3 linked regions of the Homo sapiens genome follow. The protein of the gene in region 1 interacts with the protein of each later gene in a pairwise test. Each region holds a gene or a part of one and is shown in the gene's direction. Other genes may lie near its edges.

The links. The genes of interacting proteins can lie anywhere in the genome.
Region 2: the proteins of MGST3 (region 1) and FUNDC2 interact in binary tests that used the Homo sapiens proteins (3 or more experiments, as listed by UniProt).
Region 3: the proteins of MGST3 (region 1) and C3orf52 interact in binary tests that used the Homo sapiens proteins (3 or more experiments, as listed by UniProt).

The regions. Positions count from the first base shown.
Region 1 is NC_000001.11:165,634,151-165,641,307, forward strand, and holds part of MGST3 (glutathione S-transferase 3, mitochondrial), read left to right. Parts: intron 1-7,157. UniProt on the Homo sapiens protein: Displays both glutathione S-transferase and glutathione peroxidase activities toward oxyeicosanoids, as part of cellular detoxification as well as synthesis of bioactive metabolites.
Region 2 is NC_000023.11:155,057,844-155,060,804, forward strand, and holds the end of FUNDC2 (FUN14 domain-containing protein 2), read left to right. Parts: 3' UTR 1-2,461; downstream 2,462-2,961. UniProt on the Homo sapiens protein: Binds directly and specifically 1,2-Diacyl-sn-glycero-3-phospho-(1'-myo-inositol-3',4',5'-bisphosphate) (PIP3) leading to the recruitment of PIP3 to mitochondria and may play a role in the regulation of the platelet activation via AKT/GSK3B/cGMP signaling pathways.
Region 3 is NC_000003.12:112,089,389-112,096,388, forward strand, and holds part of C3orf52 (TPA-induced transmembrane protein), read left to right. Parts: intron 1-3,971; coding exon 3,972-4,101; intron 4,102-7,000. UniProt on the Homo sapiens protein: Has a role in LIPH-mediated synthesis of 2-acyl lysophosphatidic acid (LPA). LPA is a bioactive lipid mediator involved in different biological processes, and necessary to promote hair formation and growth.

The DNA.
Region 1 (7,157 bases):
ACATAGAAATGTTTCAAAAGATGTCAGGTGTGGTCAAACTTGCTTTTCAACCTCATTGAGAGACAATATAGCAAAAGGCTGAGAGCACAAACTGGAGCCAGACTGCTTGGGGGTGTGGGGATCTGGCTGTGCTCTGTGATCGCTGTGTGACCTTGGGCAGGTCACTTAACCTTTCTGGTACTGCGTTTCTTCATCTGCAAAATGGGAGTAATATCATAGGGATGCTGTGAGGATCTAAATGAGTTAATACTGATGAACTAACTGCTTAGAACAAGGTTTGCCCCTTACTAAATACTGTGCACGGTGGTAATAAGTAATAATAATTGATTTCTCCTACTTTTCTTCCTCTAGTCTATATCACTACCCTTCAGACACACTGGACTCTTTTCTCTCCTTCATACAAGTCAAGCCTTTTTCTGTCTCCAAGTCTCTGCTCTTGCTGTTTTCTTTACCTGTGTTCTCTCTCACATATCACTTTATGCTCTTCAGATCCTTTGTCGCAATGTCACCCTTATGTTTTATGGTATGGTCCTGCTGTGTTTTTGTCTTCCCTGACTGCATGCTCACTCGTGCTCTCTCTCAATCATGCGCTCTCTCTCTCTCTCCCTCCCTCCCTCTCTCTCCCTCCCTCTCCCTCCCTCCCTCCCCCCCACTCTCAACTGTGTATTCTAGAGAGTCAGGACCTTCCTTCTCATTCTTGATCATTCTCATAGTAGCCCTGCCCCTTGAGTGGAACATGGCATTTAGTAAAGGATGAATAAGGGAAGGAATCATTCTGAGAAAATACTGAAGATGATAGCTATGGACTTGAGGCAAGCATCCCATTTAGGTAAAATGCTTTGTCCGACATTGAATTTATCATATCAGCTTCATTTAATGCATTATGAGATGTTGTCTTTATTTTTCCTTCTGTATCCCATGGCTTCTCACCATTCCCCTCCCCCTCCACCCCGCCCTCTGAGGTTGCTGCCTGCAGACCATGGGAAACATCCAGTGGGTTGTCCCTGGGATCACATCTCTTGGGAAGCTCAGCTCCAAAGGGTCTAGCAAAGCCCAGGGCTTCTAGGTTAGGTATCTCCCACAGAACCTTCTGTGTCAAGAATCTGGGAAAGTTTGTCCTTATACCTGCAGGGGAACCTGGAATTTATTCTGTCTTGTTATAAATCTAGTATTCTTAGATTCCTGAAGAACAGAATTACCAGTTTTTTCTCAGAGGAGATTTCATCAGGCATGTGTGTTTAGTGCCTTATTACACAGAAGGCACACTCCAGAGAAGAAGAAAGCAGGTAATTTGCTTATTTGGCTTTAACAGAGTTTCAACAGAGTTCGTGTGAGTGCAAGCTTGTGCTCTATAACCAAGAACCATTCACTGGAACTTGAGCATCCTGCTGATCTTCCCTCCCCCACTCCCAGCCAGTGCAGCCATGTATTAAGCAATTGTTTTCAGTACCAACAGTTTACCAAAGTGTTGGAATAAAAACGACATCTAAAACTTGAATATTTTATATGGCCAAACTATGGCTATTTAACTATACAGTTGAATATATTTGGATTATAACATATTTATCTCTTAAAGGGACAGATCTTCCATCCTCCTAACATATAGTTAGCTTCCACTCTCCAAATATTCCACCAGCAACATTGATGAATATTGAAGACTATGGACTGTGAGGTACTGTGAAAGACCCACTCTAGGACCTGCTTGCTGCTATTTGCCTTACTTGAACCAGTAATCAAGTGCTGGATAAATAATATGATTTCTATTCAACTTTTTGTTTTTAGCCCTTAGGGAACAATCTACTGAATATGCAATGCAATTGTCGGGGGATAGTTACTTTTCATTACCTAGGTTTCTGTTCCTTCTTTTAAGTGTAATTTAAATCTGGCTGTCATGAAGGTTTGGCGCTCAAACAGATTTTAGCATCTGTTTAATGTAGAAGTGGACTGGAACTAGCATTCTGAAAATGTAGTCTGAACCCAAAGAAATCCCATGACTCTCCTTTTCTGTCCTATCATAGAAACAGATAATTACATTTTTAAAGTTTTTGTGTGTGGGTGTGTGTGTTGTCATTTTGAGGTGGGGTTTCACCATGTTGCCCAGGCTAGACTCAAACTCCTAGGCTGAAGCAGTCCTCCCACCTCAGCCTCCCAAGTAGCAGGGATTACAGGTGTGCACTACTGCACCCAGCTTAAGTTTTACTTTGTTTCTAATAGATATATAATATTGGATATATTTATGAGATACAGTGTGATGTTTTAGTACGTATATACATTGTGTAATGAGCAAGAGGATTGCGTTTATGGGCCAGGCACGGTGGCTCATGCCTGTAACCCCAGCACTTTGGGAAGCCAAGGTGGGTGGATCACCTGAGGTCAGGAGTTCGAGACCAGTCTGATCAACATGGTAAAAACCCATCTCTACTAAAAATACAAAAATTAACCGGGGCGTGGTAGCACACACCTGTAGTCCCAGCTACTTAGGAGGCTGAGGCAGAAGAATCACTTGAACCTGGGAGGCAGAGGTTGCAGTGAGCTGAGATGGCACCACTGCACTCCACCCTGGCAACACAGTGAGACTCCGTCTCAAAAAAAAAAAAAATTGTTTTTATGTTACTTCCCTCTAGGCTCTTTAATTTCTCCATTGAGCATTGTGTGAGCTCCGCTGAGCATTGTATGGAGGGTCAGCTGCCCTGGCTGGAGATGGTTTTGAGGCTTGTTCCTTCGTGGAAACATCTGGATGCAGAAGTTAGGCTGTACAACTATCCAGGGGAGCTTTAAGTGAGCCAAGTGGACCCTCAGCACCACCTCAGAGTGTTCTAAGCTACCGTCTGGTGTTTGGGACTCAGGGAAGTCCTTTTGGTATGATCAGACTAGCCCTTTATGTGACTATCCTTGTGTGTTACTCTCATTAAAATATTGATTTTTGCCATGTAAGGAAGATTGGAATAGCACAGGCAGCCGAATAAGGATTTTAATGAAACATTGGAGAATGGCTTCAAGTTAATCTGTGAATGCTTTGTCATTGTCCCATCCCTGGACACATTAAAAAGAAAAAAAAGAGCAGTTGAGAAATTGCAGTACAATTTGAGGAGAGCAATATCATACACAGAAGTAGGGACTACTTTTGTCAAAGCTGGATTTTATTTATTTGGGAGCAAAGAGAGAGAGCTGAAAGACATAATCTTCTCTCCCTTAAGAATCTCATTGTCATTTAGTAAAATAAAAGGTAGTGTCACTTCATGGCTCAGAAGTGGTAAATTATTTGAGGCAGGTACCCAAATCCATAAAGCCTGCCTTTTGCTTTGTTTGTGGAATGCTGATTGTGTGCTGGGGAATTTCTGATGGGCAGCCAAGAGGAATTTGGGAAGTAGTGAAGGAGACCTTTACCCCAGGAGTGTTCTATTGGATGTAGTTCAGGAAGCTTTCTGGGTAAGCCTTGCAACCAAAGGAACCCTGCCCCAGTAAGATACGTCAAATGGTGGCAGAAGCAAGAATTAGAGGAAAGGTTGAGCAACATTTTGGTATTTGAATAGCTGTGTTCCCAGGAAACTCTGTCAGTAAAATTTCTAGAGGTTAAGTACCTTAGCCAGATGTCATAATGAACCCCTGTGTTGCTAACTCAAATGCTGGAATGGAGCATGTGTTTTAGGAGTTAGACCAACACTGCCTCATCTTAAGCCCAAGTCTGATCACTCCTAAACTGAAACTTTGCAAATGTGTGTGTTGTAGCTTACTTAAAACCCATTGGGTGTCTGCTAACTCTGGCTACACTGAAAAGTTTTTGCTATTCTACCACCCACGGACGTCAGAGCCCTGCTGCTTACCAGGGCATGTTAGTCTCCTAATCTACCCCTGAAAACCTACCATGGCCCGGGGCTTTTCTGCTACCCCCCACGTCCTATACCCTGCTTGCTTCAAAATACTGTTCCTAGTTTTCTTCCCCTAACTTGATAATGTACTCCAAAACAATCATGTTTGGCAAGTAATACACTGATAAATGTAAAAGTTACAAATAGAAGTGCTGCTGTGTTTTTAAAACATTATAGGGCCAGGAGCAGTGGTTCATGCCTCTTATCCCAGCACTTTGGGAGGCTGAGAGAGGCAAATTGCTTGAGCTCAGGAGTTCGAGACCAGCCTGGCCAACATAGCGAAACCCCGTCTGTACTAAAAATACAAAAAATTAGCTGGGCATGGTGGCACACACCTGTAATATCAGCTACTTTGAGGCAGAAGGATTGCTTGAGTCCAGAGGTCAAGCCTGCAGTGAGCCCTGATTGTGCCACTTCCACTCCAGCCCGGATGACAGAGGGGGACCCTGTCTCAAAACAAAAACAAAACAAAACAAAAACCCAGCCAGGTACGGTGGCTCACACCTGTAATCCCAGCACTTTCGGAGGCCAAGGAGGGTGGATCACTTGAGGTCAGGAGTTCAAGACCAGCCTGGCCAACATGGCGAAACCCTGTCTCTACTAAAATACAACAATTAGCTGGGCATGGTGGTGCATGTCTGTAATCTCAGCTACTTAGGAGGCTGAGGCAGGAGAATCACTTGAACCCAGGAGGTGGAGGTTGCAGTGAGCCAAGATCGTGCCACTGCACTCTGCCACTCACTCTAGCCTGTGGGACAGAGAGAGACTCCGTCTTAAAAAAAAAAAAAAACCCACATTCTAGAAATAATTAGGTTTCTAAAGTATTCTTAAAAGGGGCATCTGTGGAAACCAGCCACTAATAACATATTTAAAGGAGAGAGACTGAATGCTTCCCCCTAAGATGAGGAAAGAGGCAAGGATGTCGGCACTTGCCACTGGTATTCAACATTGCATTGCCCCTAACCAGGACAATCAGTCAAGAAAAAAAAATAAATAAAAGACATCCACATTGGAAAGGAAGAAGTAAAACTGTCTCTCTTTGCAGATGGTATGATCCTCTATGTAAAGTATTCCAACGATCGTGGATCTGTCTCTCCCTCCCCTATGCTCTTGGGCCCTGGCTCTGTTTCTCTCCTGGAGTAGAAGCCTGTGGTGCAGCAGGATTCAATTGCCTTCAATTGAACGTTGCAGAGGACTTTCCCCTCGGTGCTTCCCGTACTGGGGGAAGAGGTGATTTAACTTCTGAGTAAGGGACAAACCCAGTAGTGTGTTAGTAGCAAAAAGCATGGACACTGGCATCAGTCTGCCTGTATTCAGACACCAGCTGTGCACTCATCAGCTGTGGGACCTTAGGCAAATTGTTGAATTTCTCTTTGCCTCCATTTCCTCATCCATAGAATGGGGATAATAATAGTAACTATCATATGGGATTGTTGTAAGGATGGAAAGTGTTAAAATATCTAAACTCTGTTACAGTGCCTGCCATAAAAGAAGCACTCTAGGCCTGGCGCGGTGGCCCATGCTTGTAATCCCAGCACTTTGGGAGGCTGAGGCAGGTGGACTGCTTGAGGTCAGGAGTTCGAGACCAGCCTGGCCAACATGGCGAAACCCCATCTCTACTAAAAATACAAAAATTAGCTGGGTGTAGTGACATGTGCCTGTGATCCCAGCTACTCTGGAGGTTGAGGCATGAGAATTGCTTGAACCCGGGAGGCAGAGGCTGCAGTGAGCTGAGATAGCACCCCTACACTCCAGCCTTGGTGACAGAGCAAGACCCTGTCTCAAAACAAAACAAAACAAAAGAAGCACTCTATGGGACCAGGTCTTATAGTTAGGTATTATATATGTAGTAGTGATATTTTCAGTTTTGCTGTTTCTGCCAGATGGGATGAAAAATTCCATGAGAAGTTGGCTGGAAGTCCTACTGATTCATTAAATAGGCCTTTCATTTGAAGTCATGTTTCTAATCATTCAGAAGTTGAGGTATGCCTGATCCATGGTATTAGAAGGGATGATCCCAGAGAGGTCATTCTGTAGCATAATGAGCATTACTTTTGAAGGATGGAGAACCTAGAACTCTGACTCATTTGACTATGGGAAAATCTGATCTGGTGAGTGACCATGACCATGAAGTGAGATCTGGTAACCCAATGGTGGTCACAGGATAGAGACTCTGAAGATACTGAGCTGGCTTACACACTTGCTTTGTTGTCTCGAACCTCTGTTAAAGCTGAAAGAAGAAGTCAGTCTTCTGCTGGGCACACTGTTAGTGTGTAATTGTGAAGAGCTTAGCTGGAGCTTGCTCTTCACAACAGTCTCTGATCTCATCAGCCCCATTCTGTTTTCAGGGGTGGTACAGAAGGAGCACCTCAGGAGCCTCCAAAGATAGTAGTAGAATATAACCACCAAGACAAGACTGTGACTGTGGTTTTGAATCAGATAGAATCACCACCTCCTGCAAATTTTGTTTTTGCTCAGAACAGTGGTTCTTAAAATGTGGTCCTTGACCAACATCATCAGCATTACCTAGGAACTAGTTAGATATGATAATACTCAGGCCCCACCTAACATGACTGAACCAGAAACTCTGGGACTGAGGTATGTTTTAACAAACTCTCCAGGTGATTTTAATGCCACCAAAGTTTGAGAACCACTGATCTAGGATATAGAACAGCAGCATTCTACTGAGTTTCTGTCTTCATGCAAGTTGCTATAAAAAATATAAGCAAGGAGACACGCTCTCTGTCCTCAAAGAGCACATAGTCCATCTAGAGAGGTATACTATATTCAATGCCACACAAAGGAGGCCTTCCCAGCCGGGATCCTGATGCAACAGCCCTGCCCAGTCTCTATGCCATTGCCGTGTGTTTTCCCCAGAAGAGTTCCCATTCTTGGCCAGGTGCCTGTAATCCTAGCACTCTGGGAGGCTGAGGCAGGTGGATCACCTGAGGTCAGGAGTTCGAGACCAGCCTGGCCTACGTGGTGAAACCCCGTCTCTACTAAAAATACAAAAATGAGCCTGGTGTGATGGTGGGCACCTATAATCCCTGCTACTCGGGAGGCTGAGGAAGGAGAATCACTTGAACCCAGGGGGCGGAGGTTGCAGTGAGCCTAGATCGTGCCACTTCACTCTAGCCTGGGGGGAAGAGCAAAACTTTGTCTCAAAACAAAAAAAGAGTTCCCACTCCCTGAAGCTGTTTTTTGTTTGCATGTTTGTTGTCAGTCTCCTGTCATCATTCGAAGGTCAGGGCCTTGAGGGCAGGACCCTTTCTTGTTCACTGCTGCATC
Region 2 (2,961 bases), on another chromosome or scaffold:
CAGAGACGGATCCAGGGGCACTTTCTGGCCGCTGCCTGCTCGGGCTCAACAGATGGAGTCCAATGTTTCAGTCTCCCCCAAGAATGTGTATCCTCATTGCTGACACGGGAGCTGGGTGCGGGGAGAGATGTGGTGGTGGGGACCCTTGCCTGAGCAGCCCATTGTCATGAGTGTTATTGCCATTGTGATAATATGTTAGCATGACTCTCCTCCCAAATGGCCGCTTGTTTGTTGCAATCTCCCGCCACTCAGCCTCCAGACATTCATTAACAGGACAGTGGGGTTCTTGACTCCCCTACCACTGGGGTGACAGTCCTTGCTACTGGATCTGGGCAGTTACTGTCTCATGGATGCTGGCAGAAGACGATTCAAGTTGGCGGACTAGATTCTACAAGGAATGATCTCTTGCATAATTCTAGCCAACATGCTCTTGGGGTGGGTGCTTCTGGTTTTGGAAAGCAAAGTTACTGTGTAGTTAACAACTATTGTGGTAAGAATAGTCTCTCCATCATTCTTTTGTTTCACGGTTGTCAGAAAGATGGGCATAACTAATGGTTGGGCTCTTATTTGGAACCTCTACTTTTGTACAGTTTGGGAATCTCTGCTTGAAAAGATGGTATACTGATGGATTTGAAATTTCTGAGTATCATCAATGTTTCATGATGATCTCAATTTCTTCTCAGAGGGAAGCTCACAGCCAGTTTTGGACCCCAGAGAAAAATGTGGCTGCTGCCCTCTACTCCCTCTACCAAATTATCAGCTTCATTTCTTTGTCATGAAATCTAGTATGATTTCTCAGAAATCAGGCCCAGAACTAAAATACATTTTCTGCCCAATTTTCTAAGAGGTCACACTAACATCTGAGTAATTGGGCAGAAAACCTATTTTAGTTCTGAGCCTGATTTTTCTAGAAGTCATATGGTATAGCTTATATTTCCGATGCTTGCATTCTTTTTAAGGGGTCATGAATCTTAATACTTTTTTTTTTAAAAGAAAAGTGTCGCACTTTTTCACATTTTTATAAAGCTTTAAAGTCAGTTTACTGACTTTTCAAAAGTGTCTACCTTTTTAAATTTTAAAATGGTAAGAAATGACATTCCTGAGAGCAGTGGCTTTCATCCTTGCTTGCACTTGGGAATCACCTGTGAAATTTTAAAAACTACTAATGCCTGGCTCTCATCCTAGAGATTCTGATTTCACTGGTCTGGAGTGCTGTTCAGGCATCCTGAGGTTTTAAAGTGTCTTAGCTTTTTCTAATGAGCAGCAGAGACTGAGAACCACTGAAGTACACAGTTGGAAGCTGGTGCTGAAAAAATTAAGAGTTTTGCTGTTAACTCCTTAAGAGGGCTTTAAAGCCTTTTATATTAAGTGCCATACAACTTCAGATGCCTTCTGAATACTGAACACAAGTGTAATATTATAGTTCATTAAATGTCTTAGGAATCGTGTGGAGTGAATGCAAGGAAAGGAGTGACAAGATATCACCCCACAAATGACTTACCCATTACGAAGGGAAAACTACCTTTCTAGCTAAAAGGTCTGTCAGTCACTAACCAAGTGATTAAACTTAGCATCACTAATAGCCAACTTAACAAAGTTTTTTTTTTTTTTTGGTTTCTAAAATGGGAGATCATAGTTTTCACCTTCCTAGAGTTCTTTGCTTAAGACTGAGATTCAGTGTTACTCTTGGTCCCTAACAATAAGAAGCACTCAGTAAATGTTAAGCCTTCTATGATGGCTATTTTATTTTTTTGTATGTCATAATAATACCTAAGAATAAGAAGAGTTAAATTAATGTCTTCAAATGGATTTGTTGACTTAAACTGACACAATCCTTTAAAAGAAGGAACTGATTTGAACCTTTCAAAACTGAAAGAAAGTCGTATACTGATACAGTTTGGAGCCACCGAATGTCATGTTGAACCGTATTCCCTAATGGAGGTGGATCCTGGTGAGAGGTGATTGGATCGTGGGGGCCATCCCCTCTTGGTACTTCACTCATGATAGTGAGTTCTCATGAGATCTGGCACTTCACCCCTCACTCTCTCTTGCTCCTGCTTTGGCCATGTGGAGTGCTCACTCCCCTTTTGCTTTCTGCCATGGCTGTAAGTTTCCTGAGGCGTCCCCAGAAGCCCATCAGATACCAGTGCCATGCTTCCTGTACAGCCCATGGAACTGTGAGCCAACTAAACCTCTTTTATTTATAAATTACCGAGTCTCAGGCACTTTTTATAGCAATGCAACAATGGACTAATACATATACTTTAGCATAAAAACATTTAAAAGAGTCTGAAACTGGAGTAGTTAACTCAGTAAAAATAACTTGGCAATAAAACACAGAAAAACAATCTATTTGATCATGTAGTGATTCCTAATGTAAATCCTAGTACAACTGTCAACTGATAATTTTAAATGTAATTTAGATTTGTAGATGGTGTAACATTAAAGTTGTATGATGTTTTATTGTGTTATTATTAACACAAGACGTCATTTAAATTTCATGGGGATTTAGCTCTGTCACTCTGGTTTGTGGACCAAACGTCTCTAAGGCAGCATTTCTTTAAGTCGCTCTGGAGAGCATTCACACACAGAGATGCTGTCTGCAAAACAGGTTCACTTAGGTTTTTTGAAAGCTCTGAAGTCTGACAGGAAATTAACCTGTGTACTTGTATGCAACCTAGCATTCCCCAAACTTACCTGACCAGAGAAGCCTTTTTTTTTTCTTCCGGTTACAGCAATTCCTAGAAACACTTTGAGTAATGCTGCTTTAAAGAAAACAGTTGGTCTCAAATAATCATGGTATTTTAACATCAGGGACCTAGCAGAAATTGTTCCTGCTTTTAGTCATCTTTTTCTTTTTTAGAGGACAGCCTTTGGTGGTTCAAGCATCCATTTGAGGAAAGCAAATGGCCTGTTGCATGCTGCCTCCTCCTACTTCATAAAGTGACTGACAGCTGTCAA
Region 3 (7,000 bases), on another chromosome or scaffold:
GTGGTGGCGCATGCCTGTAATCCTAGCTACTCAGGAAGGCTGAGGCAGGAGACTCGCTTGAACCTGGGAGGCGGAGGTCGTGGTGAGCCCAGATCACGCCACTGCACTCCAGCCTGGGCAACAAGAGTGAAACTTCGTCTCAAAAAAAAAAAAAAAAAAAAAGATTTATTTCAATGAGCTAGCTAAAAATTAGCTCCATTGCCACGTGTTGTTCAGTTTAGGACAAGAATCAACTGGCTCTTTTGTGCTTGGATCAAACAAGTGGATTAAATCCCACAATGAGTATTATGAAGAGTTTCCTACCTGTAAGAAAATTTTCCCTGATCTATATAATATCTGCTTCTGATTGAGTCAAAAAGAAGAAAGGCTTTTTAGATGTAAGAGATAGGTATCCTGCCACTGTTGCAGGATCCTGTGTCATGTATTTAGACCTTTATCTAAAGACGGATGTAAATATCCGGGGAATGTTCATAGGAAAGCCCTGAAAATTCTTGAGCCATATAATATGATCACAGAATATAAGATGCAGATTGCAAATGTAAATTATTAAGCCATGTAAAACAATAATAGAATGTAAGATGCAGTTGCAAATATCTCCGGAAGGCACCTTGCAGAAGAATCTATGTGTGGCCTCTCCTCACGATCTAGAATTTGGGCAAGAGAGATGAAGCCAGTGAAGAAGGCAGTGTGTCTTCATGATCCAGTTTTGAGGCAAGACTCAGATGGCACAGGTAGCACACACCTACTGTGTCACAGGCTCTTCACCCTCAGGGCACATTGGAATCTCCGGGCGTTACTTCTAAAAGATACTAATTCCTCAGCTGATTCTAATGGGCAGACAGCTGAGAAGCACTGTACAGTCTATTGTTTGGCTGGGAGTGTCTGACAGTTTCATGTGCTTTTTTTTTTTTTTTTTTTTTCATTTGAGAGAGTCTCACTCCTGCCACCCAGGCTGGAGTGCAGTAGTATGCTCATAGCTCACTGCAGCCTTGACCTCTTGGGCTCAAGCGATCCTCCCACCTCAGACTCCTCAGTATCTGGGACCACAGGTGTAAACCGTCATGTCTGGCTATTTTTTTATTTTTATTTTTTGTTGTGACAGACCATTTTATAATGACATAAAGTCTGTGAATATTAATCATGTAAGGGATAGCGCTCAGCGGTCTTCCTCTTAGAGCTGAGGACAGGTCAGTGAGGGCACTAGGCTACAGGAAGAGGCATTTCCTATAGATGACGGCTGTAAAATTTTAAGCTGAGTTCCTCCAGGAAGTCATAGAGTAATTAGTGGTTTTTTTCAACACACCAGAGTCCTAATTTGTGATCTCTAAGGGACAGCATAAATAAAGGCATGAGAGGCCAAGGAGGTGCATTGACACTCATTCTATGGCTCATTTGAAACTAGATATTTCCTTTTGTGCTAATCTTTATGGGTCCCAGCTGCCTTTTATGAGGGCTGAAAATAGCACCAGGGCTTTGGCCTCAGGAGCTCTGTAAATGGGGAGATGTTTCTGTCCCCTGAGAAACTGAAGATTCTTTGTACTGGGATGTCTTTTTCCCGTGTGGCTTCCCCTGGCTTTGAAGCAGTTCTGCAGGTTTTGAGTGGGGATGAGAGGTGACCCTATCCCTGGATTCCAGAAATGCACTTAACTCAAGAGGGATTTCCTCTGTCAAGATATCCCTAGGGCCTTTAAGTGCTCCCCTCGCACCTCTGACAGGCTAGGCCTCAGAGTCAGTGTAAAGTGCACTTGGGAAATCCAACATTTGTCCCCTCATCTAGATTTTCTCAAAGTCCATTCTTAAAATTTCTGGGAGGCCTCTACAACTAAACAGCCCACAATCGTTAAATGTATATTACTTGTAGAAGGCACAGGTGTGGAATATAAGAACAGGGCAGTTTAAGAGCACCCCTCCTCTATGTGGTTTCAGTTTACGCAGGAAGATAAGGCCAGGCTCTGTTTGTTTTTGAACCTGAAACCGGACAGGGCAGTCAGTGGCAACAGCAGATGGGCTATGTGGACAGCTCAGGTATTGGAAGATCTCACTAAGGGCAGGTGGGGAGGGAGGCTTCCACCAAAGGGGAGATTTGACCTAACTCCCGAAAGGTGGGAGGCCTCAGACCAGAGGTCTGCCATGGCCTCCTCCCACCTCCCTTACAATCTGGTCCACTAGGTGCAGGTGGGGCCTAGGTATGTGTCAGTTAAAATCCTTACCCAGTGATTCTGATGTGCAGCCAGGCTTGGGCACCTCTAATTGAGAAGGTTGGAAATACAGTCCAAGTGTGGACTGACCGATTCGTTTTCTGATGGCCAGCACCAAAATAAGAATGGCAGAGAAGGCCAGTCGCGGTGGCTCATGCCTGTAATCCCAGCACTTTGGGAGGTTGAGGCGGGAGGATCACGAGGTCAGGAGATCGAGACCATCCTGGCTAACACAGTGAAACCCCGTCTCTACTAAATATACAAAAAATTAGCCGGGCGTGGTGGCGGGCGCCTGTAGTCCCAGCTACTCGGGAGGCTGAGGCAGGAGAATGGCGTGAACCCGGGAGGCGGAGCTTGCAGTGAGCGGAGATCGTGCTGCTGCACTCCAGCCTGGGCGACAGAGCGAGACTCCATCTCAAGAAAAAAAGAAAAAAAAAAAAAAGAATGGGAGAGAAAGCAGGCCAGGTGGCCAGGTGTCGGTCAGGAGCGAGTCTCCTCGAGTGCCGGCTGCTGCTTTGTGGGATGGTGAACGCTGAGGAATGACTGAGGCGCAGTTGCACCCTTTGGCCGAACTCCCAATAATTGTTTAGCAGATGCTTTGTGTCCATTATCTCTAGTTTTTGCAACAGTCCTGTGAGCTAATTTACTATTTATATATTTTAAAGCTGAGGACTTTGGGGCCTATGAGTTTCAGTAGCTTGCTTAAAGCCACCTTGCCTTTAAGTGGTATATCTTGGTTTGGAATCCAAGTGTGTTAGATACAGACACATTTTTTCCCCATTGTATTCTGTTGTTTCCCATGGTCTCCATGAAAGAATTATCTAATGGTGGAGTGGGAAGTAGGAGAAGAGTCATGGGACCATATAGGGTAAGGTGGGGGCCCCTCTGTGACACCCTCATAAACCGGAGCTCTGCACAGTGATGTGGACAAAAGGGAAAGTTGGAGAGCTTTGTGGAGACACACAGCAGGGATTGGTTCTGGCTCATCTCTCTGAATTGCGTCTTTGAAATGGACTAGTGCACACCCTGAAGGGCTGTTAGGGTTAAGTGAAATGACGCTGGTGCTCAATAAACCATAGCAGTTGTACTTGTTTTCATTGACCCCTCCTCTGCCTCACTCCAGCCTTCTCACTCCAGCTTTGCAGCTTATTTCCTGTTGTCTCTTGCAGCTGTCCTTTCATTTCCCTTCCCAACCCTTTTTTACATAGAACCTAGGCCACAGCAGTAGCCTTGTAGCTTTTTCTTGGTGTTTCCACTCTAAACCACACATGATTTTCCCTTAATTTTCAACTCGGCTCTGGTGTTTCAAAACCTTCAAGTTTCCAGTGCACACCCAATTAAGTCCAATCTATTCTGGGACAGCTATCAACACCCTCTGAGTGTGCTCCCAGCCTTTCACTCTCTCTAATCTTAACTTTCATTATTTGCCTCTGAAACCCACATTCCAGTCGGCAGGCTAGTCTGCTGGCCGGTTCCATTACGAATCCACACTTTGGATGCTCTTTCCTGGGTTTGGAATGCCTTCAAAAATCCATCTTTCAAAATCCTGCCTATCCTCCCCACTTCAGAGCCCCCAGAGGATTTTCTTGCTAACTTCTTGATGAGGTTCTGTTCTGCCTCTGATCTCTCTTTTTGAAAACTTGATTCAGTAGAGTGTTGCCCTAAGGTCAGGGTCTTGCTGCCTTCATTTCTGTGTCTCTGGCACATCCTAGGTATTCAGAACTGTCTGTTGCAACACAATGACTGCCTCACAATCTCCCTCTGCCTTTCTAGGCTAACAAGGAAAGCCCCTGGAGCTCCTGTAATAAGAATGTGGTTGGAAGATGCAAACTGTGGATGATCATCACCTCCATTTTCCTAGGTGTCATTACAGTGATCATCATAGGCTTATGTCTTGCTGCAGGTAAGAGGATTTAGATGTGAATAAATAACACATTTTAAGAACTTACTTAAGGCTTGTGACTTACACTGAAATGGAAGATGTACTCATAGCCATTTCATTATTTATAATGTGAATTTAAGACCGGCTTGGAATATATTGTATGGGTGGGAGATATGCCTGATTCTTGTGTTTTTGTTTTCTGTTGTTGTTGTATTTTGTTGTTTTATAAGCTCCAGAAGAAATATAGAAACCAGTGTTTTACTTTAAACTCTGCTCATTGGATCTTGAAGAGGTTTCTTAATGTTTCAACTTACTTAAACACTGATTTATATTTTATTTATATCCTGATACCTGTTGATTTGAATTCTTTTTCTTTTCATTTGTTTGCTAAAAATAATTATACTTCATCTGGTGTGTCTGATATATTACTATGATGATAAAATAATAAATAATGTATTTGAAAGAGTTTTAAAAAACTTTGAAGAACCATGTGTCCATAAGCTGTCATTATTTTAACTTATTGTATTTATTTATTTTTTTTTTTGAGAGAAAGTCTTACTCTGTCACCCAGGCTAGAGTGCAGTGGCACGACTTTGGCTCGCTGCAACCTCTGCCTCCCAAGTTCAAGGAATTCTCATGCCTCAGCCTCCGAAATAGCTGGAATTATAGGCATGTGCCACCACGCCCAGCTAATTTTTGTATTTTTAGTAGAGACGGGGTTTTGCCATGTTGTCCGGGTTGGTCTTGAACTCCTGACCTCAAGTGATCTGCCTGCCTTGGCCTCCCAAATTGCTGGGATTAGAGGCATGAGCCACCATGCTTGGCCCAATTTTAACTTGTTTTAGAAATGACTGTTTATTTTATTAGTGTTGTATGTGTGTATAAAACAAAAAATGTATAGAATGCTAACTATATATGACTACATCTATTCCATATATTATTTCATGTTGTTGCTTATTTTGATTGAAAAATGATATATGTTCAGTTACCCATAAAACCCATCTGTAATATTAATATTTGGTCATATTTTCTTCTAGTCTTTTGTTTAGTTGCATTTCTAAAATAATTTGAGATTAGATTTCTTTATAGTCTTGTGGACTACCTTTAGGATTTTGATATTATGTTTAGATCATTTTGCCAAGTCATTAAAAATTATTTGTGAACATTATTATTTTTATGATTTGCATGATACAGTCTTCCACATCATTTAAAGTTCTTTAGGTAGTTACCAATTTTTTAATGATTATTAGTATTCGTTAAAGTTTTTACATCCTCCAGTGGACAATCATTTCAATTCAAAATGGGAAAGAAGAAAATTGTTTTTATTTATATGTGGGGGTGATGGTAGAGAGGGGCTCGACTGAGGCTGGGATACTCCCGAGCATGATCCAGCCTTCATGCGGCATGGGTTGAGTCCAGCTCCCAGTTACAAACCCAGTCATAGAATGAGAAGAAGAAGGGGTAACTCCCCAGTCTCTCCAGAGGGAGTTCTCAGGAATTTTCCTCAGAAACTACATTTTCCATTTACCGCTTGTTTCCCCTTCTCCCAACCCCTTAATTTCCTGTCTTAGAGTTTTGTAATTCCTGAAGGAATAGGAAAACTTTGATGACATCAGCCAACCTCCAGCACATAAGTTTCCTGGCCAGGCACCATATCTACGTATTTACTTAGGGCATTGTTCAGGTGTGTTGGATGACTGTTTGAGGATATAAGCTGGTGTTAAGGTAGGAAAAAGCTAATGAAGTGTGCTGCACCTCCTCCGTCATGCTGAGGACAATAGTTTTGGTGTGAGCATTGCCATACTTCCTATTCATATCAATTCCAACACATGGATGTTGAAAATGAGGTTGAGTAGCACAATCTTGTCCTGACATAACTAGTTGGTGCTATCCTAGAAGTTGATATTTGGATCCTGTTGGCATCTGGGGCCTATCATAAAGGATGATTCAAGAGATCTAGATGGTTTAATATTCAGGATTCTAAAGCGCAAGACCCAGGATCTGTCTTCCATTCTCAAAAAGTCATCTAACCTCTTCACCTCACAAAGAGCAGTCTGCAAGAGGAAGGTATTTCACTTCCTTCCACAGTTTTTCTGGAGATGTAAAAGGTTATGGGATAATATTCAGGGAAGAATTTTTTTAACACTTGTAGTGCAAACTTTATTTTTAATTTAACTGTAAATTTGTGTTCGAACATGTCAATGCTGTAAGAGAGATTTTTTCAAACTACTTTTTAAATCAAGGAAATACTTGTATTTTACTTGGCATCTCAGCTCTTAGGTATTTGATCCTGTGGGGAGAGTCATGTTAGACGTGGGGGTGGGGGGAGATACAGTAGGTTAAAAGGGGTGGGGCAGGGGCTCCCTTCTGTGACAGTCCCAGCCTCACCTAGAGCAGTTCCGTAGGCATTTTTTGGGGATGATCTTCAATAATCAGCCACTTCCTAATTGCCAAGCCCATTAATATGAATCAGATATTTGTGGAACTTTCAAGTACTGCATGGGAAATGTTGTCTGGGGATAAAAACACTGTTGGGAGAGTCAAGGGCTGTGCCTGTGGCTGTCTGGATTTACTGGGTGACTAAGGTTCCTCAGGAACTATATTTGCCATTCATTGCCTGCTTACCCTTCTCTAGACCCCTTAATCTCCTGTCTCAAGGCTCTGTAGTCTTCAGACTGAAGCTTGGAGGCGGAAGTGTTAACTTTTGTTCTTCAGTAGGCAGGTCTTTGCAAAACTACCCAGAAAGGCTGAGGAAGCTGAGAGGCTAAAGAAAAACTGACAAATCCAGTTACTCAGAAAGAAACATTTAACAGGGTTTTAGGAACAGAAGCCATGCGTTGGGCAGCAGTGAGAGGAGATGGTGCATTCCTGCACCATTACCCCAAAGGCCCAGGGCTTAAATACCACAGAAAAAGGGTAT